Homo sapiens: one gene and its partners. The protein of the gene in region 2 interacts with the protein of the main gene of each other region in a pairwise test. Each region holds a gene or a part of one and is shown on either strand. Other genes may lie near its edges.

The links.
Region 1: the proteins of HERPUD1 (region 2) and STARD9 interact in a two-hybrid assay, tested with the Homo sapiens proteins (one large-scale study listed by BioGRID and IntAct).
Region 3: the proteins of HERPUD1 (region 2) and IMPA2 interact in a two-hybrid assay, tested with the Homo sapiens proteins (one large-scale study listed by IntAct).
Region 4: the proteins of HERPUD1 (region 2) and EWSR1 interact in a two-hybrid assay, tested with the Homo sapiens proteins (one large-scale study listed by BioGRID and IntAct).
Region 5: the proteins of HERPUD1 (region 2) and CHRM2 interact in a two-hybrid assay, tested with the Homo sapiens proteins (one large-scale study listed by BioGRID and IntAct).
Region 6: the proteins of HERPUD1 (region 2) and CCR2 interact in a two-hybrid assay, tested with the Homo sapiens proteins (one large-scale study listed by BioGRID and IntAct).
Region 7: the proteins of HERPUD1 (region 2) and C5AR2 interact in a two-hybrid assay, tested with the Homo sapiens proteins (one large-scale study listed by BioGRID and IntAct).

The regions. Positions count from the first base shown.
Region 1 is NC_000015.10:42,690,091-42,694,325, forward strand, and holds part of STARD9 (stAR-related lipid transfer protein 9), read left to right. Parts: coding exon 1-4,235. UniProt on the Homo sapiens protein: Microtubule-dependent motor protein required for spindle pole assembly during mitosis. Required to stabilize the pericentriolar material (PCM).
Region 2 is NC_000016.10:56,930,905-56,934,941, forward strand, and holds the start of HERPUD1 (homocysteine-responsive endoplasmic reticulum-resident ubiquitin-like domain member 1 protein), read left to right. Parts: upstream 1-1,237; 5' UTR 1,238-1,340; coding exon 1,341-1,487; exon of another isoform or gene 1,488-2,390; coding exon of another isoform or gene 2,391-2,411; intron 2,412-4,037. UniProt on the Homo sapiens protein: Component of the endoplasmic reticulum quality control (ERQC) system also called ER-associated degradation (ERAD) involved in ubiquitin-dependent degradation of misfolded endoplasmic reticulum proteins.
Region 3 is NC_000018.10:12,005,109-12,009,343, forward strand, and holds part of IMPA2 (inositol monophosphatase 2), read left to right. Parts: intron 1-3,229; exon of another isoform or gene 3,230-3,301; coding exon of another isoform or gene 3,302-3,483; intron 3,484-4,235. UniProt on the Homo sapiens protein: Phosphatase that can use myo-inositol monophosphates, myo-inositol 1,4-diphosphate, scyllo-inositol-1,4-diphosphate, glucose-1-phosphate, beta-glycerophosphate and 2'-AMP as substrates in vitro.
Region 4 is NC_000022.11:29,291,853-29,296,087, forward strand, and holds part of EWSR1 (RNA-binding protein EWS), read left to right. Parts: intron 1-284; coding exon 285-317; intron 318-635; coding exon 636-754; intron 755-4,235. UniProt on the Homo sapiens protein: Binds to ssRNA containing the consensus sequence 5'-AGGUAA-3'. Might normally function as a transcriptional repressor. EWS-fusion-proteins (EFPS) may play a role in the tumorigenic process.
Region 5 is NC_000007.14:137,014,696-137,018,930, reverse strand, and holds part of CHRM2 (muscarinic acetylcholine receptor M2), read right to left. Parts: intron 4,112-4,235; 5' UTR 4,066-4,111; coding exon 2,665-4,065; 3' UTR 1-2,664. UniProt on the Homo sapiens protein: The muscarinic acetylcholine receptor mediates various cellular responses, including inhibition of adenylate cyclase, breakdown of phosphoinositides and modulation of potassium channels through the action of G proteins.
Region 6 is NC_000003.12:46,358,923-46,361,822, forward strand, and holds the end of CCR2 (C-C chemokine receptor type 2), read left to right. Parts: 3' UTR 1-754; coding exon of another isoform or gene 755-938; 3' UTR 939-2,018; downstream 2,019-2,900. UniProt on the Homo sapiens protein: Key functional receptor for CCL2 but can also bind CCL7, and CCL12. Also transduces signaling mediated by CCL13.
Region 7 is NC_000019.10:47,334,945-47,339,179, forward strand, and holds part of C5AR2 (C5a anaphylatoxin chemotactic receptor 2), read left to right. Parts: intron 1-2,150; exon of another isoform or gene 2,151-2,225; intron 2,226-4,235.

The DNA of each region.
Region 1 (4,235 bases), on a different chromosome or scaffold from region 2:
CTGAGGCTTCTACTGGCTTTGAAGAAGGTAGGGCAAGTCCCAAACAAGATACCATTCTGCCTGGAGCTCTGACAAGGGTTGCACTGGAAGCTCCCACACAGCAGTGTGTGCAGTGTAAGGAGAGTGTTGGGTCTGGGTTGACAGAAGTCTGCAGGGCTGGCAGCAAACATTCCAGGCCAATTCCACTGCCAGATCAAAGACCAAGCGCAAATCCTGGGGGAATTGGGGAGGAAGCCCCATGTAGACACCCAAGGGAAGCTTTAGATGGCCCTGTCTTCTCAAGGAACCCTGAAGGCAGCAGGACTCTCAGCCCGTCTAGAGGGAAAGAGAGCAGAACTCTTCCTTGCCGACAGCCATGCAGTTCTCAACCTGTTGCTACTCATGCTTATTCCTCCCATTCCTCTACTTTACTGTGTTTTAGAGATGGTGACCTAGGGAAGGAGCCTTTCAAGGCTGCCCCACATACTATCCACCCACCCTGTGTAGTACCTTCCAGGGCCTATGAAATGGATGAGACAGGAGAGATCTCTAGGGGACCTGATGTGCACTTGACACATGGCCTTGAGCCCAAAGATGTTAACAGGGAATTTAGGCTAACAGAGAGCAGCACTTGTGAGCCTTCTACTGTGGCTGCTGTCCTATCTCGAGCTCAAGGCTGCAGATCCCCTTCTGCTCCTGACGTGAGGACAGGTTCCTTCAGCCACTCAGCTACTGATGGAAGCGTGGGGTTAATAGGGGTTCCTGAGAAAAAGGTTGCTGAGAAGCAAGCAAGCACAGAACTTGAGGCTGCCTCTTTCCCTGCAGGCATGTACTCTGAGCCCCTGAGGCAGTTTAGGGACAGCTCTGTAGGTGACCAGAATGCACAGGTGTGTCAAACCAATCCAGAACCACCTGCAACAACTCAGGGACCACACACCCTGGATTTAAGTGAAGGGTCTGCTGAGAGCAAGTTGGTGGTAGAGCCACAGCATGAATGTTTAGAAAATACCACTAGATGTTTTTTGGAAAAGCCACAATTTTCCACTGAGTTGAGGGATCACAATCGCTTGGATTCCCAAGCCAAGTTTGTAGCAAGGTTAAAACATACCTGCAGCCCCCAGGAAGACAGTCCCTGGCAGGAAGAAGAGCAGCACAGAGACCAGGCTTCAGGTGGTGGAGAAGGCTTCGCCCAGGGTGTGAATCCCCTTCCTGATGAAGATGGCTTAGATGGCTGTCAGATTTTAGATGCTGGGAGAGAGGAGGTGGCTGTGGCCAAGCCTCCTGTGTCCAAGATTTTATCACAGGGCTTCAAAGACCCAGCCACTGTGTCCTTGAGGCAAAATGAAACACCGCAGCCTGCTGCTCAGAGGAGTGGCCACCTCTACACTGGCAGAGAGCAGCCAGCACCCAACCACAGGGGCTCACTTCCTGTGACTACAATCTTCTCTGGCCCCAAACACTCCAGGTCCTCCCCCACACCACAGTTCTCAGTTGTCGGCTCTTCTCGTTCTCTTCAGGAGCTGAACTTGAGTGTGGAGCCTCCTTCCCCTACAGACGAAGATACACAGGGGCCTAACAGATTGTGGAACCCACATCTCAGGGGCTATTCCTCAGGAAAGTCAGTGGCAAGAACATCTCTGCAGGCTGAGGACAGCAATCAGAAAGCCTCATCTCGCTTGGATGATGGGACTACCGATCACAGGCACCTGAAGCCTGCCACCCCTCCTTATCCAATGCCTTCCACTCTCTCACACATGCCAACCCCTGATTTCACGACCAGCTGGATGTCTGGTACTTTGGAACAAGCCCAACAGGGAAAGCGAGAGAAACTGGGTGTCCAGGTTAGGCCAGAAAATTGGTGCTCTCAGATGGACAAAGGAATGCTGCACTTTGGCTCCAGTGACATCAGTCCCTATGCGCTGCCGTGGCGTCCGGAGGAGCCTGCACGTATCAGCTGGAAGCAGTATATGTCTGGCAGTGCAGTCGATGTTTCCTGCAGCCAGAAGCCCCAGGGGCTGACACTATCAAATGTGGCCCGGTGCTCCAGCATGGACAATGGCCTAGAAGACCAGAACTCCCCTTTCCACTCCCACCTCAGCACTTACGCCAATATTTGTGATCTGTCAACCACACACAGCAGCACTGAGAATGCCCAGGGTTCAAATGAGGCCTGGGAAGTATTCCGAGGGAGTTCTTCAATTGCCTTAGGAGACCCCCACATCCCGACGAGCCCTGAAGGAGTAGCCCCCACTTCGGGTCATGACAGAAGGCCTCAGTTCAGGGGCCCTTCTGGTGAAGCAGACTGTCTGAGGAGTAAGCCCCCCTTGGCCAAAGGAAGTGCTGCAGGTCCAGTGGATGAGATTATGCTGCTGTATCCATCAGAGGCAGGCTGCCCTGTGGGACAGACCAGGACGAACACATTCGAACAGGGCACACAGACCCTCGGCAGCAGGCGCCACTGGAGCAGCACTGACATCTCCTTTGCTCAGCCTGAAGCCAGTGCAGTATCAGCCTTTGATCTGGCCTCATGGACCAGCATGCACAATCTGTCTCTCCACCTCTCACAGCTCCTGCACAGTACCTCAGAGCTGCTTGGGAGTCTCTCCCAGCCAGATGTGGCCAGAAGGGAGCAGAACACCAAGAGGGACATCCCAGATAAAGCCCCACAGGCCCTGATGATGGATGGCTCTACTCAGACCACTGTGGATGAGGGCAGCCAGACTGACCTCACCTTACCCACCCTGTGCCTCCAGACTTCAGAGGCTGAACCTCAGGGAGCCAATGTGATCCTTGAAGGGCTAGGCTCAGATACCTCGACTGTGTCTCAAGAAGAGGGAGATGTGCCAGGGGTACCTCAGAAGAGAGAGGCAGAGGAAACAGCACAGAAAATGGCTCAGCTCCTCTATCTTCAGGAAGAAAGCACTCCCTACAAGCCCCAGAGCCCTTCAATACCCTCATCCCACTTGAGGTTTCAGAAAGCCCCCGTTGGGCAGCATCTTCCTTCTGTGAGCCCCTCAGTTTCTGATGCTTTCCTGCCTCCCAGCTCCCAGCCAGAGGAGTCATATTGCTTAGTTGTCAGCAGTCCCAGTCCCAGCTCCCCTCATTCCCCAGGGCTCTTTCCCAGTACTTCCGAGTATCCTGGGGACTCCAGGGTCCAGAAGAAGCTGGGCCCCACAAGTGCTTTGTTCGTGGACAGGGCCTCCTCCCCAATCCTCACTCTTAGTGCCAGCACCCAAGAGCCGGGTCTTTCCCCAGGCTCTTTGACCCTCTCAGCCCCTTCAACTCACCCTGTTGAAGGCCACCAGAAGCTTGACTCCAGCCCAGACCCTGTTGATGCCCCAAGGACTCCAATGGATAATTATTCCCAAACCACTGACGAGTTAGGTGGCTCCCAGAGAGGTAGAAGTTCCTTACAAAGGAGTAATGGGAGATCCTTCCTTGAGTTGCACTCCCCACACAGCCCACAGCAGAGTCCAAAACTCCAATTTAGTTTCTTAGGGCAGCACCCTCAGCAGCTTCAGCCCAGGACAACTATCGGGGTCCAAAGCAGACTGCTGCCACCACCACTGAGGCACAGGAGCCAAAGGCTGGGCAACAGCTTTGTGCCTGAGAAGGTGGCTTCCCCGGAGCATTGCCCACTGAGCGGTAGGGAGCCAAGTCAGTGGCAGAGCAGGACAGAAAATGGAGGTGAGAGTTCAGCATCTCCAGGGGAACCACAACGCACTCTGGACCGACCTTCTTCATGGGGAGGCCTCCAGCACCTCAGCCCCTGCCCTGTCTCTGAGTTGACTGATACTGCAGGGCTCCGAGGTTCTGCCTTGGGCCTCCCTCAGGCCTGCCAACCTGAGGAGTTACTGTGCTTCAGTTGCCAGATGTGCATGGCCCCTGAGCACCAGCACCACAGTCTGAGGGACCTCCCGGTGCATAACAAATTTAGTAACTGGTGTGGGGTTCAGAAGGGCTCACCTGGGGGGTTGGACATGACTGAGGAGGAGCTGGGGGCCAGCGGTGATCTCAGCTCTGAAAAGCAGGAACAGAGTCCCCCACAACCTCCTAATGACCACAGCCAGGATTCTGAGTGGTCCAAGAGGGAGCAGATCCCCCTGCAAGTTGGGGCCCAGAACCTCTCACTCAGCGTGGAACTCACAGAAGCGAAACTGCACCATGGCTTTGGGGAGGCCGATGCCCTGCTCCAGGTGCTGCAGAGTGGGACAGGGGAGGCGCTTGCTGCTGATGAACCTGTGACATCCACCTGG
Region 2 (4,037 bases):
CAGGTGGTAATGCAGCGATAGGGAGCAGCTGTAAATACAGATGAAGCTTCGCTGGTGGCTCACCTCCTGCGGTGCCGCCTGGTTCCTAATAGGCCAGGGACTCATAGTGGTCCGTGGCCCAGGGGGGTTGGGGACCCCGTCTTAAGCCATCCAGTTTGTGGCACTTTGTTATGGCAGCTGCAGCAGATGAATATACCCACCAACCAGACCAGGCTCCTCCTGTTACCTTCCTGACCTTGACAAGCTCCTGACAACACCTGAAAAAACAGATGTCCCAAGGGGGTTGGAACAAGGAGGGAGCCGGGGCAATGTCAGTTTTGTTTTTCAAGCCTTTTTTTTTTTTTTTTTTTTTCCTACAGAGGAGGAGGAGGGAACGCCTACAATAAAGAGGCCTTTATGGTCCCACTTCAGGAATCGGAGAACCCCGCCCTCCTCGTCTCAGCCCCAATTTAACGGGTGCATGTGTGAGTATCTTATAAAGTGACGCGTTTTGAGGGGGACTCCAGTGTGAGCAGGACTGTGGCTGACTTGTCAATCATCATTAGGGTGATGTCCCAAACGTTCAAGTCTGAGGCCCAGGGAAATTGGCAACAGCTGCCTGGATGCCTCCATCCTCCCAGCCCAAGGAAAATCTGGCCTTGCTCCTTCGTTGTCTTTCTTAGGAGCACGTGGAGTTCTCCTAGGTGGGCTTGCACTCGGGGTCGCCCAGCCGTTCTTTGAGGGTTCGAGTGGGTAGGCTTCCCCTGTAGGACGGGCTTCCCCGTAGGTTTCCACGTGGGGCCACAGAGGCAGGAAAAGGGGAAGTGGGCACTGACACCTGGGGTGAAAAAGGGTGGGGGTGCGGCTTTGTGAGGAAAGAATTTGCAGAGACTGCTAAACTGGGGTCTGCTAGGATACCCCACTCCCCACCCCCTGCCTCGGGCGCCCTCAGCCACCCGAGCTGGGGGCCTCGCAGGTCTCAGACCAAGCTCCCCGCGCGGCCTGCAGCGCACCCAAACATGGCCACCGAACCCGGGTTCCCGGGGCACAGCCGCGCCTCTGGGTGACGCAGACGCGGCGGGTTGCATCAGCCCGTGCCCACGTGCTCGGTCCGCCCTCTGCCACCCGGATCCGGACGCCGATTGGGCCACGTTGGGAGAGTGCCTCCGCCTCAGCCAATGGGCGGCAGCCACAGAGCGTTCTGTCCGCAGAGCCGGGCGCGGGGCTTCTATAAAAGGCGCCCGAAGCGGGGGCGCGCGCCCCAGAGACGTGAACTGTCGTTGCAGAGATTGCGGGCGGCTGAGACGCCGCCTGCCTGGCACCTAGGAGCGCAGCGGAGCCCCGACACCGCCGCCGCCGCCATGGAGTCCGAGACCGAACCCGAGCCCGTCACGCTCCTGGTGAAGAGCCCCAACCAGCGCCACCGCGACTTGGAGCTGAGTGGCGACCGCGGCTGGAGTGTGGGCCACCTCAAGGCCCACCTGAGCCGCGTCTACCCCGAGCGTCCGGTGAGAGCGGCCCCGACTTCCCGCCCCTAGGCTGTGGCCCCCCGCCCTCTGCTGGGGATGCCACGTCCGGCTGCCCTGTCCTGTGGCCTCCTCCCGCTGACGGCTGCGATCGCTCGGCCGGTCACCTCCCCCAGGGCTGTGGTCTCCCCTTCCCTGCCCCGCCGACGCGGGCGCCCCTCTGTTGCCCAGTAGCCGTCAGTAATCAGCAGCCTGACCTTGGGCGAGTCATTTCACCCTCCAAGCCTGTTTCTCCCCCAGCGGCCAGGCAACTCGGTGTTCCTAATTGGGCTTGCATCCAATGGCTAGAAGTAAGAAAACATCCGTGCTGCAAAATGAGGTTTCTGAACGCAGCCTCTCTGCAGGGAGAGGAGCGGGCAGGTGCCACCCGGGGCCGTGGCTTGAGAAACCTGGGGACCGCCCAGACACTGTGGACGGAAGGCCCCACACCCAGAAGCAGGACGTGGCTCTTCTCCTCCCTGGCCACCTTCCGCCGTGCCCCTCCCTGTCGCACTGGACCGAGCAGCCATTGCCGAGTCCCGGGGTGGAGCCCCGTGCACTTTCTGACCAAGAGCGACTGAGAAGGGAAGCAGGCAGGAGTCGCCTTCAGTCTGGTTTTAGGACGGCAGCCTCTCCATTATTAGCAAGACTTCCTTGCTTTGTTTTGGTTGACACATCTGTCAACATCACCCTTAGCACCGCCTGCCCTGGCCACCACGTGATGAGGCTGTAAGCTGGCCCTTCCTGTATTTACTTTCTGCTCTGATATTATGTAAGTGTCAGCAGTGTTCTTCACTGCCCACGAGCATAATTCTTCATCACACAGGAGAGGGCATCCGGGCAGGAAAAGATAGTGAAGTCGTGAGTTCCAGCTTGTGGTAGCGCCTGTGTCTGTTTTTGTTTCATATGGTCAAGAATGTTTTAGAAGTGAGTTTTCCTTCTGAGTTGTTATTTTGAAATTTGCATATTTATTTAGTAAGCTTGCATTCCATGTCCTCTAGAATTCACCCTGGCACATTTTTCAGTTTCACCATAGCTGCTTCCAAGAAACTGGGTGGCTGTGTTGCCATGAGAATGACTATTGGGTACACAAATTGGTGAAGCAGGTGTAGCCTATGGTTGCATCATATGGCAAAAGGCAGGATTTTGGCGGAGGATTTTTAAGGTCTTCCTTTGATGAGGAATGCCGCTCCCATCTGTTCAGTCTGAAGACCTAACATTGTAAACAAATACCTCTCAGGTATACAAATTTGTGTCTAAAAATTATTATGGCTGAAACATACTTATCATTTGTTTTCTGTAGTAGAAAATGGCATAATATGAGAAGGCCTACTTTGTAATAGTTGTTTGCTTTACTTAATATTTTTCAAATCAGCCATCTGTGTGAAGACTCAATATCAAGTTAGGCCTTTAAAAGGGGGAAAATAATTCAAAACCACTGGCAGCTGTGGTTTTCCGGCCTTTTCTATTGGTTGAACTCTGTAATAAATGCAGGACCCTACATATACAAAAGGTACTGTTTTCCAAATTCACGTATGTATTAGCATTTACCTTTAAAGTTCTCATCCGTCAGAAAAACGGTGAACACAGCATTCAGTATATTTATTTTGGTTTAGTTACACAGTGTCAAAAAGTTCTGATGTATATGGATAAGTAGATGCACTTTTTGCTGTTTTGTTTGTTTAAACAGCTTGCTTTAATTATCTCAAGCTACTTGGCAGGAACACCTTTATTCCAGGTTTCGCATAATCAGTTATTCTGGCAAGAGTAGATTAACACGTTAGTGATCTCCAATAGACAGATTATATGTTAATATTATTTGAGGCCATTATTTTTAAGTACAATTTAGACGGAGTTTCAAATAGATTTTAAAAATGAGATTTGTATAAAAGAGTGTGCAGTCCCTATGGTGTTAAAATCACTGATATGGAGGAGAAGAGGGGTTGGAATTGTGACACTGTGGCAGCAGATGACCTTGGACAAGTCAGTTTTTCAGACTTTCCTCCCTTAAAATAGGGATACTAAATCTCACAGGGTGGTTGTGTATAATGTCACCCACACGCCATCTCCTCTATAACTGCATTTGTATGCCAGGAAATTGTCTGTGAAGGCTTCAGTTTAGAATAGCTTCATATTATTTTGGGGCACTGCTGGGTGATTTTGGTTAAGGCTGGCCTTGGGAGTTCTCTGAGTTTTCTCTGAAACCAAACTCAATTTGGTTGTAGGTTCCCTGTTTGCTGTTTGTTGCTTTTAGTAATAGGAGTCAGTCAGTTTACCTGGGAGTTAAGTTTGGACTGGAGATAATTTGCCATTCTTTTTTTTTTTTTTTTTTTTTTTTTTTGAGATAGGGTCTCACTCTGTCGCCCAGGCTGGAGTGCAGTGACATGATCTTGGCTCACTGCAACCTCTGCCTCCCTGGTTCAAGCGATTCCCCTGCCTCAGCCTCCTGAGTAGTTTGGGTTACAGGCACAAGCCACCACGCCCAGCTAATTTTTGCATTTTTAGTAGAGATGGGGTTTCACCATGTTGGCCAGGCTGGTCTCGAACCCCTGA
Region 3 (4,235 bases), on a different chromosome or scaffold from region 2:
GCCACACAGTGCAGAAGCCTGCTCCCTGCTGCCCACAAGCATGAGGCAGGTGGGAAGGGGGATGCTCGTGCCACCTTGTAGGCGGGCAGGCAGTCTCATGGGCAGAGGTGTACACAAGGTGGGTGATGAGGAAGACAGCTCTAGGGTATGAATGATCAGCTGCTGAAAAACATCCAGTGCTCAGTGTGGGTACTTAGAGTTATTCTCATAAAAAATGTGAGGCAGAGTTAGTCAGGTGTGGTGATGCATGCCTGTGGTCCCAGCTACTCAGGAGGCTGAGGCAGGAGGATTGCTTGAGCCCAGTGGTTTGTGGCTTCAGTGAGCCATGATTGTGCCACTGCACTCCAGCCTGGCTGACAAAGCGAGACCATGTCTCCAAGAAAAAAAAAAAAAATTTCTAAAAGTACTTGCTGGGTTACACTAAATGAAACCTAAAAAACAAATAGATAAATAATAAAGGTTACACACAGCAGAAGCTTTGTTAACAAATTAACTTATATTAATAGTTGCTGCTGGGAAAACAAGCTGCTTGGTGACTTCCCTAAAGGGTGTCCCACGCATCTGGCGAATGAACAGACAGAGCTCCTGCTCCCGAGTGTCCTGGGAGGCACGTGGGCATGCCGCGTGGGTGGTCTGGGTGCTGCAGCGTGAGTTGTCCTGGGTGTGGAGTGTCAGTGCCTGCAGACCCACACTGCCTCCTCCTTCAGGGCTCACTGGCAGTTTTCTTTCCACCGCTTCAGTTTCCTACTTGAAGTCAGGTTTAAAAAGGAGAAGAATTGCACATTCCTCCTCAGTTTCTTAGAAACTTACCTTTGTGCCTGAGTCATTTCTAGTCCCTCTGGACCTGAGTCATATCTGTTCGCTGCTTTGTCAACCTTGTGCCCAGTTTAAGCTTTCGTAGTTGCTCCTTGTATGTGTGTTTTCAGGGTGTGGAGCGTTTTCTTTAAAAACGTCATTGCAAGCCATTACAGAAGAGGAAAGTCACATAGCTACAGAAGACATGGAAAAACAGATTTAGTGCCTGAAGTTTCTAGGAAAACTGGCAGTGCTGACAGCACTTATGATCACGCCCTAAGTGGAATCATCACCTGTGTGTCTCCTGCAGGCTGCTGTTGTCAGGAGGCAGCCTCTCCACCCCCTGCCCCGGCTGCCATTGTGGCTTCTACCCACCATTTTTCCTCCTAGATCTGTTTGGGGAGCACCAGTTCCTGAGCAGGGGCTCTGGCTGGTGGGCCTGTGCATCACCTGACCTAGAAGCATGTGGACAACTGAGAGTGGAGAGGCAGTTCCTGCAAGGAGCAAGGCGTGCAGTGTAGATGAAGAACCAGAAGCCTGGGTTCACTGCATCTCATCTGCCTTGCCTGGCTAGGCTGAAAGCTCCAGGGGCAGACTGAGCCTGCCCAGGCTCTCCAGGAACAGCTGATGATTCCTTGGGTGTCTTGCTTAGTGCTCCTGGCTTGACTTGACCTGGTCTTCTTGGCTCAGAAGCCCCTGCTTATTCGTGGGTTTCTCCAGGGGGCCGGGGAGGAGGTCGCACAGCCTGAGATGATGTATGCGTGCACTTGTCGTATCCCAGGGTTGTATTTCTAGATAATTTATCAGCAAAATGGAGGGGCTGGATGACTCTGCATCCCAGGCATGAACTTCATAACCCAGCAGTGGAAGGATGGTCCCAGAGTGGATGGGGACCAGGGTGGTTACAGTGTGTATGGCAGCTCCCGTGCATAGAAAAGTGACATCGGGCCAGGCGTGGTGGCTCACGCCTGCAATCCCAGCACTTTGGGAGCCTGAGGTGGGCGTATCACGAGATCAGGAGTTCAAGACCAGCCCGGCCAGCATGGTGAAACCCCATCTCTACTAAAGATAAAAAAAATTAGCCAGGCGTGTGGCGCACGCCTGTAATCCCAGCTACTCATGAGGCTGAGGCAGGAGAATTGCTTGAACCCGGGAGGCAGAGGTTGCAGTGAGCTGAGATCGCGCCATTGCACTCCAGCCTGGGCGACAGGGCGAGACTCTGTCTCCAAAAAAAAGTGACATCGAATACCATGAGATGCCTGCTGTTGCCTCTCAGCATCTCGGTGGGAGGACAGCACTGCCAGCGGCTCTGTCTGTTGCTGCAGGGGTGGCCCACATCTGCTGTGTCCACAGTGGTAGCCGCTCACCCACGTGACTGCCAAGCACTTGAAAGGTGGCTCATGAGACTGAAGAACTGAAGTCTTTATTTAATTCAAATGTAAGCAGCCATATGCGGTGACTGGCTACTGTAAGGCGCTGAGCGGTCACAGAGGTTTTCATTTCAGTCTTTCCATTCACACTCAAGTCTCCAGCCTTATCCAAAAGTTCATTGATGCCAAATCTTAGACCACATGGTTCGTGCGGGGAAAGTGGCTTCCAGGAGGCTGATGACCACAGTGGATAATACACCAAACACCAGAACATGGGACGCTTCTTTCTTTCTTTCCTTCTTTTCTTTCTTTTCTTTTCTTTCTTTCTTTCTCTTTCTTTCTTTCTTTTTCTTTCTTCTTTCTTTCTTTCTTTCTTTCTTTCTTTCTTTCTTTCTTTCTTTCTTTCCTTTCTTTCCTTTCTTTCCTTTCTTCCCTCCTTCCCTTCTTTATTTCTCTCTCTCTCCTTCCTTCCTTCCCTTCCTTCTTTCTTTTCTTTTTCTTTTCTTTCTTTTCTTTTTTTTGAGATGGAATCTCACTCTTGTCACCCCGGCTGGAGTGCAATGGCATGATCTCGGCTCACTGCATCCCTCCCGTCCTGGGTTCAAGCGATTCTCCTGCCTCAGACTCCCAAGCAGCTGGGATTATAGGCGTGCGCCACCACCCCCAGCTAATTTTTGTATTTTTATTTCTTTTTCTTTTTTTTTCTTTTTGAGATGGAGTCTCACTCTCCCAGGCTGGAGTGCAGCGGTGTGATCTCAGCTCACTGCAACGTTAGGATCACTGCAACCTCCGGCTCACTGCAACCTCCACCTCCTGGGTTCAAGCAATTCTCCTCTCTCAGTCTCTCAAGTAGCTGGGAGTACAGGCGCCCACCACCACGCCCAGCTAATTTTTGTATTTTTAGTAGAGACAGGGTTTCACCATGCTGGCCAGGCTGATCTCGAACTCCTGACCTCAGGTGATCTGCCCGCCTTGGCCTCCCACAGTGCTGGGATTACAGGCGTGAGCCACCGCGCCTTGCTTGTTTTTCACTTATTTTCTTTTTCTTACTCTCTGCAGGTCTCCTTTTTCTCTAGTACACATGTGAACCCGGCACAGGAACTGGATAGAAAACCTCTCGGCAAGGCCACATAGTCATGCACAGAACAGATGTTTGCTTAGCGCCTGCCCAAGGCCTCACCCTTAGTGAACTTGGGACAGTCCAAGAGTGTCAAAAGCACTGCCCTGAATGCTTTAGATCTAGTCTTTTCTTTGATCCTGAGAATGCCTTTGGAAGGTGTAAACAGCGGCCAGCTCCACAGGGACCAGCCTGCAGAAGGTGGGCTGCGAATACACCTGACCACAGCATCTTCCCTGTGTGTGTGGGCCTGCGTGTGGGTGGGGTGCAGGAGGAAGGGTGACAGTGCATGGGGCGAGAGTGCTTTCCCTTGTTTTTGGCCTGAGCAGGGGGTGCTGGGAGTTGCCATTCGTGGAGGTAGAGGCAAGTAGAGAAAACCAGGAGTTCCCTTCTGTGCAGGTGAATCTTGAGAGAACATTGTCTCGGTCAGGTTCCTAGCAGGACAGACGCACACTCAAGTGAGGATTGTAGGGGGCCTTGTTTGCAGAGGGACTCATTACAAAGGAGGGGCCAGCCCAGGGCCTGCTGCAGAGTGCAGGAGCAGGCCGCCCATGTCCCTCTAGCAGGAATGTGTCAAGCAGGCCACATGGAGGAGTGGAGCCTGCACAGGGCACATGGGGCAGGGAGCGTCCCAGCCTCTCTCCTTCCTGCAGCCCCACCCTTGCTTGCTCCCAGAGGGAAGCTGGATTTGTGACTGGCCAATGTAGCAAGACCCCACCTCTACAAAAATAAAAATACTAGCTGAATGTGGTGGTATGCATCTGTAGTCCCAGCTACTTGGGAGAACAAAGCAGGAGGATTGCTTGGATCCAGGAGTTTGAGGCTGCATGAGCTATGATGATACCACTGCACTCCAGCTGGGCAACAGATCAAGACCCTATCTCTTAAAAAACAACAACAAAAAAACCAGGGAAGTCAGATACCAGGGCAGGAAGGGCACCTTTGGGAAATGA
Region 4 (4,235 bases), on a different chromosome or scaffold from region 2:
GAGGAAAAATTTTGACTTAAATTTAACACTGATTTGGCACATAAGCATTGAGAGTGTATTTGGTTAATGGTTTAGAAGCAAACCAGCAAAGGAAAAAAGCAAACCCTAGCAAACCTTTCACAAATGTTAAAGAGACACTGCTCCATTTTAGCAGTGCGGGTCATTTTGAGTTTAATGAATCCCCATCAAATGGTGGTATAGTAGATAGCTATGTGTGTTTGTAAGGTTTGTAGCTTGCAAGACGTGCACTAATAATATTTTATATGATCTTTCCTGGTTGGCAGGACCCATGGATGAAGGACCAGATCTTGATCTAGGTAATTTTGAATTCTAGTTGTGCTTCATATCGTGCTTTGTAAATTAATGGTACAGAGGTAAATGCATGCGTAGAGTTCAGCAGCCTTATAGACCAGTGTGATATTCTTGCTGTCAAGGACAGTTTGGGAAATCCTATGTGAGCATCTACTCATAATTGCCTTAAGTGAAGTAAACCAAAAGTTTGATAGCATTCTTCTTAGTATGCTTGGTAGTTTTCTTAGATTTATGATGAATATCCTTGGGCAGTAGTGATCAGGTAGTTAAGAAACCCCTATAGATACATGATAATAATTCTCCTGTCTTGTTGTCTCTGAAAGGCCCACCTGTAGATCCAGATGAAGACTCTGACAACAGTGCAATTTATGTACAAGGATTAAATGACAGTGTGACTCTAGATGATCTGGCAGACTTCTTTAAGCAGTGTGGGGTTGTTAAGGTCAGTAAAAGCATAACCAGGTCATCTGGCAGAACTTTAAACCACAGAGCATTTTAAAGAGATTGAATTGATGTTGAGAGTTGTTTTCTAAGGTTGCCTTTGCCTGACTTCTTTCTAGGTATCTTATGGTTTGTTCCTTTTTAAAAAAGATTAGCCTTTTTTTTTTTTTTTTTTTGAGACGGAGTTTCCTTCTTGGTGCCCAGGCTGGAGTGCAATGGCGCAAGTCTTGGCTCACTGCAACCTCTGTTCAAGCGAATCTCCTGCCTCAGCCTCCCAAGTAGCTGGGATTACAGGTGTGCGCCACCAGCTAATTGTGTCTTTTTAGTAAAGATGGGGTTTCACCGTGTTGGGCAGGCGGGTCTCAAACTCCTGACCTCAGGTGATCTGCCCACCTTGGCGCCTCCCAAAGTGCTGGGATTACAGGTGTGATCCCCTACGCCCGGCCTTCCCTCCTCCACCCCTAGGGACAGAGTGTTGCTCAATCTCAGCCTCCCAGGTTCAAGTGATTCTCCCACCACAGCCTCTTGAGGTAGCTGGACTTATAGGCACATGCCACCACACCCAACTAATTTTTATATTTTTAGTGGAGATGGATTTTTGCCTGTTGGCCGGGCTGGTCTCTAACTCCTGGCCACCTCAAGTGGCCACCTACCTCAGCCTCCCAAATTGCTGGGATTACAAGCATGAGCCACTACACCCAACCTCAAATTATTGTGTCTTTATGCTAATTCTTCATAGCTAGTAACGCAGATTTTTTCTTCAGGGATTTTGACTGTTTTTCAGTTCTTGCTCTTCTGTATTAGAGTTAGTTTATGAACCCCATAAACCTCAAAACCTTAAAACCCCAATTGAATATTTACTAAATCTATGAAGTAATTTCAGGAGAATTTACATTTTTATGATACTGAGTGATCTTTTTTTCCCCATGAAGATTTTATTTCTCCATTTATTTGTATATTTATTTGCTTATTTATTTACTGAGACAGTCTTGCTGTGTCACCAGGCTGGAGTGCAGTGGCACGATCTCGGCTCACTGCAGCCTCTGGCTCCTGGGTTCAAGCGATTGTCCTGCCTCAGCCTCCTGAGTAGCTAGGATTACAGGTGCCCGCCACCACACCCAGCTAATTTTTGTATTTTTAGTAGAGATGGGGTTTGGTGAAACCATGTTGGTCAGGCTGGTCTTGAACTCCTGACCTCAGGTGATCTGCCGCCTCAACTCCCAAAGTTTTGTGATTGCAGACATGAGCCACTGTGCCTGGCCTGTCTCTATTTGTTATTTTATTTTACTTTGAGACAGAGTCTCACTCCTTCACCCGGCTGGATTGCAGTGGCGCAGTCTTGGTTTACTGTAACCTCTGCCTCCCGGGTCTCCTTGCCTCAGCCTCCCGAGTAGCTGGAATTACAGGCGCCTGCCAGCACCCCTGGCTAATTTTTGTAAGTAGAGATGGGATTTCACCAGGTTGGTCAGGCTGGTCTTGAACTTCTGACCTCACGTGATCCACCCACCTAGGCCTCCCAAAGTGCTGTGATTACAGGTGTGAGCCACCACACCCAGCCTATTTAGATCTTCAGTAAAGACTATCGATTTCCTTAAAGGTCTTGCAAATTTTACTAGTTTTACTTCTAGGTTTCGTTTATTTTCAAGTTGCTGTGGTTAAGGGTCTTCGTTAAATGACACTTTTCTGGTTATTACTGGTGTATAGAAATACAGTTGATTTGGCCGGGCGCGGTAGCTCACGCCTGTAATCCTAGCACTTTGGGAGGCCGAGGCGGGTGGATCACGAGGTCAGGAGATCGAGACCATCCTGGCTAACACGATGAAACCCCGTCTCTACTATAAATACAAAAAATTAGCCAGGCTTGGTGGCGGGCACCTGTAGTCCCAGCTACTCGGAGGCTGAGGCGGGAGAATGGCATGAACCTGGGAGGCGGAGCTTGCAGTGAGCTGAGATGGCGCCACTGCATTCCAGCCTGGGTGACTGAGTGAGACTCCGCCTCAAAAAAAAAAAAAAAATACAGTTGATTTTGGGCGGGCGTGGTGGCTCATGCCTGTAATCCCGGCACTATGGGAGGCCGAGGTGGGTGGATCACGAAGTCAAGAGATCGAGACCATCCTGGCCAACGTGGTGAAACCCCGTATCTACTAAAAATACAGAAATTAGCCGGGTGTGGTGACACGCGCCTGTAGTTGAGCTACTTGGGAGTCTGAGGCAGGAGAATCAGTTGATCCCAGGATGCAGAGGTTGCAGTGAGCTGAGATGGCGCCACTGCACTCCAGCCTGGCGACAGAGCAAGACTCCATCTCAAAAAAAAAAAGGAAATACAGTTGATTTTGGTAAATCTTATATAAGGTGATTTCTCCCTGCTTGTAGGTGTGTGTGTGCACAGATATCACACACACCTCAAAAGTAAAATGCTTTTAGTGTCTACTGTCACATTCTACCCTGTGCAAGACTCCTTGTTTGCTTTTTTGTTTTGAGATGGAGTCTTGCTCTGTTGCCCAGACTGGAGTGCAGTGGCACAATTTCAGCTCACTGCAACCTCCGCCTCCTGGGTTCAAGCCTCAAGCCTCTTGAGTAGCTGGGAGTACAGGCTTGAGCATATTAAAAAGACTGCTTTTTAATATGTATATAACATGTAGTTTATTGAGGAATGTGGAGTTTATCCTGGTTAAGAAAGTAGTATTTACCATCAAAATTTTGGAAATAAAGATGTTAAAATAGATTTCCAAGCTGGATACAGTGGCTCACATGTGTAATCCCAGCACTTTGGGAGGCCAAGGCAGGAGGATCCCAAGGATTGCTTGAGCCCAGGAGTTTGAGACCAGCCTGGACAACAGAGTGAGACTCTGTCTCACAAAAAAGAAAAAAATGCATTTCCACATTATTCATACCACAGTTTTGCCATATTTTCTTTTCAGTTTTTAGGTATCACGTTCCTTTTTTTAAGTCAGAGGTATCAATATATATATCCTGTTGTAATCTTTTTTAAGTCCTATAAATAGATTGCTCTTGTGTTACTGGATATATGTAAACAATTACAGACTAAACTGATCGTGTGCATATATAATGCAAAAAAGTACACGTGAAGATATTCTTATACAAGGTAGCTCCTGAATTCAAGTCAACCACATCTGATATTCAGCTGAAAGACTAGTCATCTGTTCTAACTGGAGGAAGTAGTGGCTGTGTTAGACTAACCAAGAATCCCTGTAGTTCACTCACAGCCTGTACACTGTCCTTCACGGTTTAAGGATAATTTTCTTTATGCCAGTCATGTCTTATGTGGTGGTATCAAAGTCTGACTACCCCTACGAGGTGGCTGTGCTCAGTGGATACCTGTCTGGGCATAGAAAATGCCAGGGCAGGCAAACCAGCATCAGAAGATGGCTAAGGCAGGAGTGGGGCCTATCCTGTTCACTTCCACACTTTGGTCTACTTTGGTTTTTATGATAAAGCAGGGATAGAGGAGAAAATAACTT
Region 5 (4,235 bases), on a different chromosome or scaffold from region 2:
GGGAATTGTCTCTGTTTGAGAGCCACTGAAATAGACAAATCCAGCAGTGGTTAATAAAAATCCTTGAATATAATCTCCATATCTCTCCAATCATCTATCATTTTCAGTATTCCTTCCATTTTTCTTATCTGTTTGACGTAGTTTCCATGGTGTCAGCCTATCTTCAATTTCTTTCTTTAAAGTGACAGTTTCTCTTTCAATGAGGTTGCAGTGGCTGTGGCAAGGATCAATAACAGAGGGAGGAAAAGGAAGGATACAATGGCAGCAGAGACTAAAAGCTTGATTCATGGTGCGTTGGATTATTAGAGCAAACAAAAAAAGACCCTGAATCCTGAATCCTGGATGCCAAAGGGTTCTTCCCAACTGAAGCCAAATCTACATAATAATAATACAATACATTAAAAAGGGAAATACTTGGCTAGTCAATTCTCTGGTTTTCAGAAACTCGAGGAGCCCACTGGCTTGACGTTATTTCCGTTCAACTGATTCCTTCATTTGAAGAAACAATATGAAAATAAATATGAATTTAAAATGTAAAAGTGCATGTTGAAGTAACTGTAGGTAAGGGAATCTCTATAAATGAATGCTTTAAATATGGAAGATTACTTTGGGGGGGTAATGACTGAAGTTATTTAAACAGGAAATTGTTTTTACGAAGGATAAGTCAAATATAAATACTGCTGGCAATTTGCTTCTTACTAACTTATAAGTTTTTTGGTTTTTTTTTTCCCTCATGCTTTTTTTCCTCCTTAACTCTCCAAAATGTTGAGGTGGCATCTATGAGGCTAATCATACAAAATAATTCTTTTAAGTGCTGGGGTCTAATATTGATAAATTTACCATGTAACTAACATTATTATTACTGAACAAGATATCATAAATCTAAAATCCAAAATATGAAATTTGCAAATGCGTTTATAATTTGATTTCCATTGATTGAGCCATTTTTAGAAAATCTCATTGGAAAACTACAGCAAATACTGTAAGAAAAATATAAAGGATAAAAATAACTAGTTGTATGTGAATCCGTATAATCCTAATCCTATATTTATTTAGACGACCAAATAAAAAATCTCTACGTGGCAAGATTCTATATAATGCCACCACTTAGATAATAGTTCCTGACATGATTATTATGGTCTAGAATTAGATGGTGAGATGTGGCATGGCAACAGCCACCTACCTCCTTCTGTCAGATTCTGTAAGCTCGTTTGGCCTCTATTTAGTTAGCCACTACATTTCTGTCACAAAGATTACTATAATTCTATTGATAAGAGAATTTTGAAGTTAAATAATGTTAGGGAGAATTGACAATTTGAGGAATATGGAATATGTAATTGTTTCAGTAATAGTTTTTAAAATATCGTTTTTTCCCCTTTCATGGGGTCATAGGATAATTGCAGACATCCTCACTTGGTTATAATTTGAATATCATCCTTTAGCAGGCATTGGATAGAAGGTTCTATTCTCTAGGGACTGGCCCAGAAATCACTGGTGCTATGTGAGTATGTTAATCCTGTTTAGGATTCCAAATAAATAAAACAGCATTCCTTTCTGCTGAGAAAGTCAGGAGTTCATTTTCTATAAGTTAACATTTCATACATGGGTCAGGCAAATTCAGGTTGAAATAGAAAGTCCTAAACTTCTATTTTTTAATCTTAAAATTCACCTGACTTTAATAAACTTGGTCCAACTAGATAGTCCATTATTTAATTTGATGAAACCTCAACTTTACAGTGACGATGGTTTCTTAAACAGGTTTATGTTTTAGGTAGGATATTCTGTTGATATAAAAGGCTATTTAGGAGAAAATCAGATTGGTTTAAACATTTCGCATATAGGATTATAAGTGCACTAAATCCTTATAGACCTTGATATCCCCAACGAATGCAAAGGACACAGTGAGGAGGGGTGAAACGTCCATTTTCATGGCTGTCTCTGGCTAGCTTTAGTGAAAGTCCTGTAGGTTTTCCCTATAAACAATATAGAACAGGGATGTACAAAATAGTGGCATAACAAGAAGAAAAATGGTGTGACCTAGTTGGGGTTTCTGTTTGTTTGCTTTCTCTTCATGGTGGGAAAAAGAAAGGCAAAAAATAAGCATTTATTACATTCCAATCCTCTAAATAGGACCGTAACAAAAGAATAAAATATGCTTAACACTCCGGAGACAATTTCTGCATCCTTCTTTGATTTTCTTTTTTTATGTCCCCATTGTATAGTGCCTATTTCTTTATGTTTAAGTCTCCATGTTTACCTTGTAACTGTGGCATTTCCTTCTCTTAAGGACACATGAGAACAACAACAACAAAAGTAACAAAAAAGGAACAAGGTTATTCCTCTTGTGCAGAGACTGATAAAATTGTAGAATCAGAAGCCCTTCTTCAAGAGATTATGAGAAACAGTGTATAGTTTCTTAAATCCACGATCCCAACATGTTTCTTTCATTGTCTCATTGCTCCTAATACTGACAGTTTATAAGGTGCAATTTTTGCAAACTGGAGCCTAGGCGTGATAAGTGTGTCACTGCTGGGCTCCTGAATTGCACGTTTTGTAATCAGACTATAAAGTGCAATGGCAGAGATTTTAAAACTAGGAGCTCGTTTATCCCTTTTATTCTTCTCAAGCTCCCCTTGCCCACCTTCTATCTTTTTCAAAGATATTTTACCTTGTAGCGCCTATGTTCTTATAATGACACATGAGAAGGTGTTTAAAGGTCTTCTTGAAGGTGGCATTGCAAAGTGCATAGCAGGCAGGGTTGATAGTGCTGTTGATGTAACAAAGCCAGTAACCAATTGTCCACACAGTGTTGGGGATGCAAGGTGCACAAAAGGTGTTAATGAGCACCATGACATTGTATGGGGCCCAAGTGATGATGAAAGCCAACAGAATAGCCAAGATTGTCCTGGTGACTTTCTTTTCCCGGGAAGGAGGAGGCTTCTTTTTTGCAGGCTGCTTAGTCATCTTCACAATCTTGCGGGCTACAATATTCTGCTTTTCATCTCCATTCTGACCTGAAGACCCCACTACCTCCACGGTGGTATTAGTTGGGGTACATGAGTCACTTTTTGGGGTCTTGGTGCCAATTCTGATGCATGTTTGCTTAGAGTTCTCATCTTTGGAATGGCCCAGGGAAGTGGAAACTGTGTTTTCATCCTGGGTTATTTCATCATCTCTCATATTAGAGGCAACAGCACTGACTGAGGTGGAGTCATTGGAGCTCTCCTTCTCCTCTCCCTGAACACAGTTTTCAGTCACAGGATCCCTGGGGGCTTTGCCATTCTGGATTTTGTTGTGCTCCAGGCCATCGTCACTGCTGGGCATGTTGTTATTGTTTGGCTTCACTATCCTTCCTTGTACCAGACTTGGAGAAACGGGGTCTTGGTTGGCAACAGGCTCCTTCTTGTCCTTCTTTATCCTGCTCTTGCTGGCTCGGGATATGTGCCAATATAGCACAGTCATGATGATCACTGGCAAATAGAAGGCTGCAATAGCCGTACCAAAGGTGACAGCAGCATTGGAAAAAAACTGAATGTAGCACTCCCCATCCTCCACAGTTCTCACCCCTACAATGAACTGCCAGAAGAGAATGGCTGGAGCCCAGAGGATGAAAGAGAGGACCCAGGCAGCTGCAATCATCATACCTGCCATTTTTGTGGTCCGCTTGACTGGGTAGGTCAGAGGTTTTGTGACACAGAAGTACCTGTCAAAGCTGATGATGAGCAGATTCATAACTGAGGCATTGCTGACCACATAGTCCAGGGCTAGCCAAAGGTCACACACCACAGGTCCCAAAGGCCAGTAACCAATCACAGTGTAGAGGGTGTACAAGTTCATGGAGAAAACACCTATGATAAGGTCAGCACAGGCCAAGCTGAATAAAAAGTAATTGTTGACGGTCTGGAGGTGGCGGTTGACTTTAATGGAAACCATGACTAGGATGTTCCCGATAATGGTCACCAAACTGAGGGATCCAGCCACCAGGACAATAAACACCACTTCAAATGTCTTATAAGGACTTGTAAGAGCCAGGCTATTGTTAGAGGAGTTTGTTGAGTTATTCATTTTGCGTTCTCTAATCAGTAGCCAAGTAGCAAATAAACATTTAAACCTGCAAGGAAATAGAATAAAATTAACAAACATAATATAAACATTGGTTTAAAATACATAATGTTGTTTCTCCTTTTAAACCACATTATTTTCTCCCAAATCTCCCTTCCCCTGCATGATTACTG
Region 6 (2,900 bases), on a different chromosome or scaffold from region 2:
CAATGTCTTGAAATCAAGGGCCAGCTGGAGGTGAAGAAGAGAATGTGACAGGCACAGATGAATGGGAGTGAGGGATAGTGGGGTCAGGGCTGAGAGGAGAAGGAGGGAGACATGAGCATGGCTGAGCCTGGACAAAGACAAAGGTGAGCAAAGGGCTCACGCATTCAGCCAGGAGATGATACTGGTCCTTAGCCCCATCTGCCACGTGTATTTAACCTTGAAGGGTTCACCAGGTCAGGGAGAGTTTGGGAACTGCAATAACCTGGGAGTTTTGGTGGAGTCCGATGATTCTCTTTTGCATAAGTGCATGACATATTTTTGCTTTATTACAGTTTATCTATGGCACCCATGCACCTTACATTTGAAATCTATGAAATATCATGCTCCATTGTTCAGATGCTTCTTAGGCCACATCCCCCTGTCTAAAAATTCAGAAAATTTTTGTTTATAAAAGATGCATTATCTATGATATGCTAATATATGTATATGCAATATATATAGGCTCTTGCTTGATCTCTCCAGGAGGTAGTGATTATGAGAAGGGGGTGGAGAATGATGAGTTCCTTCACCAGGAGCAAAGGACGGGGATCGTGTGGAACCACTGCAGAACTATTTCCGAAATCAACTAAGTGGAGAGAGCCAGGAAGGCTGCATCAGAACCCAGTAAAGCTTCTTGTCTGGATCTGAGCTGGTTTGTTTTGTGCTTGCTTTTCCCTGCCTTGCCACTCCCCTCACTCTTCTCTTTTCCCCACAGCCTTTTTCACATAGCTCTTGGCTGTAGGATTGCCCCACTCCAAAAACCAGTGTGTGGAGGTCCAGGAGTGAGACCAGGAAAGAATGTGAAAGTGACTACACAAGGACTCCTCGATGGTCGTGGAAAAGGAAAGTCAATTGGCAGAGCCCCTGAAGCCAGTCTTCAGGACAAAGAAGGAGCCTAGAGACAGAAATGACAGATCTCTGCTTTGGAAATCACACGTCTGGCTTCACAGATGTGTGATTCACAGTGTGAATCTTGGTGTCTACGTTACCAGGCAGGAAGGCTGAGAGGAGAGAGACTCCAGCTGGGTTGGAAAACAGTATTTTCCAAACTACCTTCCAGTTCCTCATTTTTGAATACAGGCATAGAGTTCAGACTTTTTTTAAATAGTAAAAATAAAATTAAAGCTGAAAACTGCAACTTGTAAATGTGGTAAAGAGTTAGTTTGAGTTACTATCATGTCAAACGTGAAAATGCTGTATTAGTCACAGAGATAATTCTAGCTTTGAGCTTAAGAATTTTGAGCAGGTGGTATGTTTGGGAGACTGCTGAGTCAACCCAATAGTTGTTGATTGGCAGGAGTTGGAAGTGTGTGATCTGTGGGCACATTAGCCTATGTGCATGCAGCATCTAAGTAATGATGTCGTTTGAATCACAGTATACGCTCCATCGCTGTCATCTCAGCTGGATCTCCATTCTCTCAGGCTTGCTGCCAAAAGCCTTTTGTGTTTTGTTTTGTATCATTATGAAGTCATGCGTTTAATCACATTCGAGTGTTTCAGTGCTTCGCAGATGTCCTTGATGCTCATATTGTTCCCTATTTTGCCAGTGGGAACTCCTAAATCAAGTTGGCTTCTAATCAAAGCTTTTAAACCCTATTGGTAAAGAATGGAAGGTGGAGAAGCTCCCTGAAGTAAGCAAAGACTTTCCTCTTAGTCGAGCCAAGTTAAGAATGTTCTTATGTTGCCCAGTGTGTTTCTGATCTGATGCAAGCAAGAAACACTGGGCTTCTAGAACCAGGCAACTTGGGAACTAGACTCCCAAGCTGGACTATGGCTCTACTTTCAGGCCACATGGCTAAAGAAGGTTTCAGAAAGAAGTGGGGACAGAGCAGAACTTTCACCTTCATATATTTGTATGATCCTAATGAATGCATAAAATGTTAAGTTGATGGTGATGAAATGTAAATACTGTTTTTAACAACTATGATTTGGAAAATAAATCAATGCTATAACTATGTTGATAAAAGATTTAAAAACAACTGGCTGTTTTTTTACACTGTGGTGTGGAAGATTGTGTTGTGTTCACAACTTTTCACTTCTTCCCCTGTGTGATTACACACACCTGCCCTTGTGGTGTGACTTGCAGTGCGCCCTACAGGCCACACACCCCACGCCCTCCACCACTGGCTCTGCTGCTGGAATGTGAGCAGAAGTGACATCTGCCTCATCCAAGCGGAGCCTCTTGCTCAGCCACAGGAAGGCCCATTCCAGATCACACCCGTCAGCCCGTGCGCCCTGGTGAATGAGAAGACACAGGGAGCTGCAGCCACATATAACATGAGCAAGAAGTCTGTGTTTGCTGTGATAAGCCACTGAGTTTTAGGGGTTGTTTGTTAAGAAGCACAAAAACCGATTAAGACATGTGGTATATAGTGACTTCATATATAGAATCTGGAAAACTATCCATTTATTTTCAATCATGGAATTCAATATGACAAGCATCCCGGAGGGTCTACCTATGCCAGACTGGGTTGGAAACAGAAAGACAGATGTTAATGCCAGTGTCCTTTACACCTCCAAGTCCAGGGCCAGCTGTGGAGTGGGAGGGGTAGAGAAGGTCCTGTGCACAGTCACAGTGCGCTGTGCAGAGCAGGAACAGAGGCATCTGTGAAAAGTGCTGAGAGCCTGGAGGACAGAGTGACTAATGCAATGACAGTCTTGCATCATAGGAATAACAGCCACAGCAGGATTTTATTGCTGCCAAAGAAACTGCCATTTAAAAATTGCCAGCCATCCGGGAGGCTGAGGCAGGAGAATGGCATGAATCCAGGAGGCGGAGCTTGCAGTGAGCCGAGATCGGGCCACTGCACTCCAGCCTGGGCAACAGAGCCAGACTCCATCTCAAAAAAAAAAAAAATGCC
Region 7 (4,235 bases), on a different chromosome or scaffold from region 2:
TGTGATCTCAGCTGACTGCAACCTCCACCTCCCAGCTTCAAGGGATTCTCCTGCCTCGGCCTTCTGAGTAGCTGAGATTACAGGCACTCGCCCCCACGCCCAGCTAATTTTTTTTTTTTTTTAAATCTTTAGCAGAGATGAGATTTTATCATGTTGGCCAGGCTGGTCTCAAACTCCTGACCTCAAGTGATCCGTCTGCCTAGGACTCCCAAAGCGTTGGGATTACAGGTGTGAGCTTCTGCACCTGGCCCTGTTTCTCATTATTCTCCTTACCATTGTTATTGAATGGCCTTTAGTTAATAAGCACCACTTGGGCAGACAGTGGACTGTTTTTGATGCTTTGAGGACGAATGGGGTTGATATCTGTACAGATAGACAGGAAAACAGATATCGGGCACGTTAAGTGGAAAAGATGAAGAAATGGAACAACGTATGTTGAAAGCTCCCATTTCTGGTTAAGACGTTACAAAGGAAATGCCATCTACGATACCATTGCTTTGGGCTTACAGCTGGGCAAATTATATGCACAGAAAGTTTCCTGGATTGGGCTGGGCATGTTGACTCACGCCTGTAATCCCAGCACTTTGGGAGGCCGAGGTGGGCGGATCATGAGGTCAGGAGATTGAGACCATCCTGGCTAACACGGTGAAACCCTGTCTCTACTAAAAATACAAAAAATTAGCCGGAAGTGGTAGCGGGCGCCTGTAGTCCCAGCTACTCGGGAGACTGAGGCAGGAGAATCATGCGAACCCGGGAGGTGGAGCTTGCAGTGAGCCGAGATCGCACCACTGCACTCCAGCCTGGGCGACAGAGTGATACTCCGTCTCAAAAAAAAAAAAAAAAAAAAAAAAAAAAAAAGAAAGTTTTCGTTTTCTGGATTGTAATCAACAAGGGCCAGGAAGGGTGGAGTCTTTGCGGGGTGAGAGGATGCGTGTGGACAGTGATAACAGCAGCTAGCCTACGTATGACACCCACTGAAAACCAGCGCTATACACTCAGCTCTACCCTTCTAACTTGTTGAATTCTTACAACACCCCCTAAGGCAGGAATATTATTATTCCCATTTTACTGAGGCACAGATAGTTTAGGTGACTTGCCCAAGGCCACACAGCTGGTAGGAATTTGAGGGTTTTTGTTGTTGTTGTTTGTTTGTTTGTTTTTTATGATGCAGTCTCGCTGTTGTCGCCCAGGCTGGAGTGCAGTGGCATGATCTTGGCTCACTGCAACCTCTGCCTCCCGGGTTCCAGCGATTCTCTTGCCTCAGTCTCCCGAGTAGCTGGAATTACAGGAGCCCACAACCATGCCTGGCTGATTTTTGTATTTTTAGTAGAGACCAGGTTTCACCATGTTGCTCAGGCTGGTCTTGAACTCCTGGCCTCAAGTGATCCGCCCACCTCGGCCTCCCAAAGTGCTGGGATTACAGGTGTGAGCCACTGTGCCCGGCTAGGGGGGGTTCAGTTTTTAAATGCTGTACTCTTTCTTTCTTTCTTTCCTTCCTTCCTTCCTTCCTTCCTTCCTTCCTTCCTTCCTTCCTTCCTTCCTTCCTTTCTTTCTTTCTTTCTTTCTTTTTCTTTCTTTCTTGGGACAGGGTCTCACTCTGTTGCTCAGGCTGGAGTGCAGTGGCGCGATCATGGCTAACTGCAGCCTCAAACTCCTGGGCTCATGTGATCTTCCACCCCAGTCTTAGAAAAGGTTGGGATTGCAGGCACGAACCACTATGCCTGGCTAATTTTTAAATTTTTTGTAGAGACAGAGGGTCTCACTGTGTTGCCTAGGCTGGTCTTGAACTCTTGGCCTCAAGCGATCCTTCCTCCTCAACTCAGCCTCCCAATGTACTGGGATTACAGGTGTGAGCCACTGCACCTGGCTAAATTCTGCACACCTTTTACTCTAGGGATAAAAATAATACGAAAGTGGAATGCCAGACTCCGAATACACACACCAAGTGGCCTGGACTCTTCACTGCTACCTGGCATGGGGGAGGGGAGTGCCCCAACTTCCTCTCTGTCCTTCCTGTTGCCTCAACACCAGCTGGAGTGCTGAGCAGTGCCAGCCAACCCATAATAGTCAGCAGAGAGCCTCAGGGCCAGGTCACTCTGACATTGTGGGGGTGGGGGGGTGGGGACTCCTGCCTGGGTCCTGTGCTACCCACAGCTTTGTCTACCGGAGCCTGTGTGCCACGTGCTGGACAAATCTTAACTCCTCAAGGACTCCCAAAACCAGAGGTAGGTTCACCTCAATGACTCTTGTTTCCCCGATGAGGAAATAGGCACAGCCAGCTGCAACTGACACCCACAGTCATGGAGGCCGGGGCTGCTCAGGACCACTTGCTGTGCTGCCTGCCAGCTCTCCAGAGCCCAAGATTTGGAGATGGTAATATTCTAGGGCATGGGGTTCTGCAGCGGGGACTAACACACTTTGAAATTTACCTACTTAGGGCTGGGCGCGGTGGCTCATGCCTGCAATCCCAGCACTTTGGGAGGCTGAGGTGGGCGGATCACAAGGTCAGGAGTTCGAGACCAGCCTGGCCAATATGATGAAACCCCGTATCTACTAAAAATACACAAATTAGTTGGGCATGGTGGCGGGTGCCTGTAGTCCCAGCTACTCAGGAGGCTGAGGCGGGAGAATTGCTTGAACCCTGGAGGCGGAGGTTGCAGTGAGCCGAGATTGCGTCACTGCACTCCAGCCTGGATGACAGAGCGAGACTCTGTCTCAAAAAAAAAAATTTTACCTACTTAGCTGAGTGATCTTAGGTAAATTACTTAACTTCTCTGTGCCTTATCTGTAGAATAAATATAACAATAGTGTCAAATTCAGACAGTTATTATAAGGTTTCAGTGAGGTCAGGCACGGTGGCTCATGCCTGTAATCCTAGCACTTTGGGAGGCCGTGGCAGGCAGACCACTTGAGGTCAGGAATTCCAAACCAGCCTGACCAACATGGTGAAACCCCGTCTCTACTAAAAATACAAAAAATTAGCCCCGGGCATGGTGGTGCACGCCTGTAATCCCAGCTACTCGGGAGGCTTGTGGCAGGAGTAATGCTTGAACCCAGGAAGCAGAGGTTGCAGTGAGCCAAAATAGCGCCACTGCACTCCAGCCTGGGTAGCAGAGTGAGACTCCGTCTCAAAAAAAAAAATAAATAAAATAAAATAAAACAAGGTTTCAGTGATACAGTGTTTAAAGCTGCGTGGTGGCCACTGCCTGTAGTCCCAGCTACTCAGGGGGCAGAGGTGGGAGGATCACTTGAGCACAGAGTTTGAGGCTGCAGTGAGCCGTGATTGCACCACTGCACTCCAGCGTTGGCAAGATGGCGAGACCCTGTCTCTAAAAAAAATATATATATATAAATTTGCCAGGTGTGGTGGTGCACACCTGTAGTCCCACGTACTCAGGAGGCTGAGGTGGGAGGACCACTTGAGCCCAGGAGTTCGAGGCTGCAGTGAGCCAAGATAGTGCCATTGCATTCCAGCCTGAGTGACAGAGCAATATCTGTCCCTAAAAAAAAAAAAAAAGTTGACACAAAACACAAAATGTTCAAGAAACAGTGGCTTCCAATAATAATAATTTTATTATTATTATTATTGTCAGGCACAGTGGCAATCATGCCTGTAATCCCAGCAGTTTGAGAGGCTGAGACAAGGCAGGTTGCTTAAGCCCCAGAATTCAAGACCAGCATGGGCAACATGGTGAAACCAGATGACCTCCAAAATAATAATAATAATAATAATAATAATAATAATTAATCAGGCATGATGGTGTGCACCTGTAGTCCTAGCTACTTGGGAGGGTGAGGTGGAGGGTTGCTTGAGCCCAGGAGATGGAGGCTGCAGTGAGCTGGGAAAGTGCCGCTGCAGTCCAGTCTGGGCTACAGAGCCAGACCCTGTCTCAAAAAATAGTAATAATATAGTAATAATATTATTGTGGCCCGACATGGTGGCTCACGCCTGTAATCCCAGCACTTTGGGAGGCTGAGGCAGGTGGATCACCTGAGGTCAGGAGTTCGACACCAGCCTGGCTAACATGGTGAAACCCCATCTCTACTAAAAATACAAAAATTAGCCAGGTGTGGTGGCATGTACCTGTAATCTCAGCTACTTGGGAGGCTGAGGCAGGAGAATTGCTTGAACCCAGGAGGCGGAGGTTGCAGTGAGCCGAGATCATGCCACCACACTCCAGCCTGGGCAACAGAGCAAAACTCTGTCTCAAAAAAAATAAATTATTGCTATGATA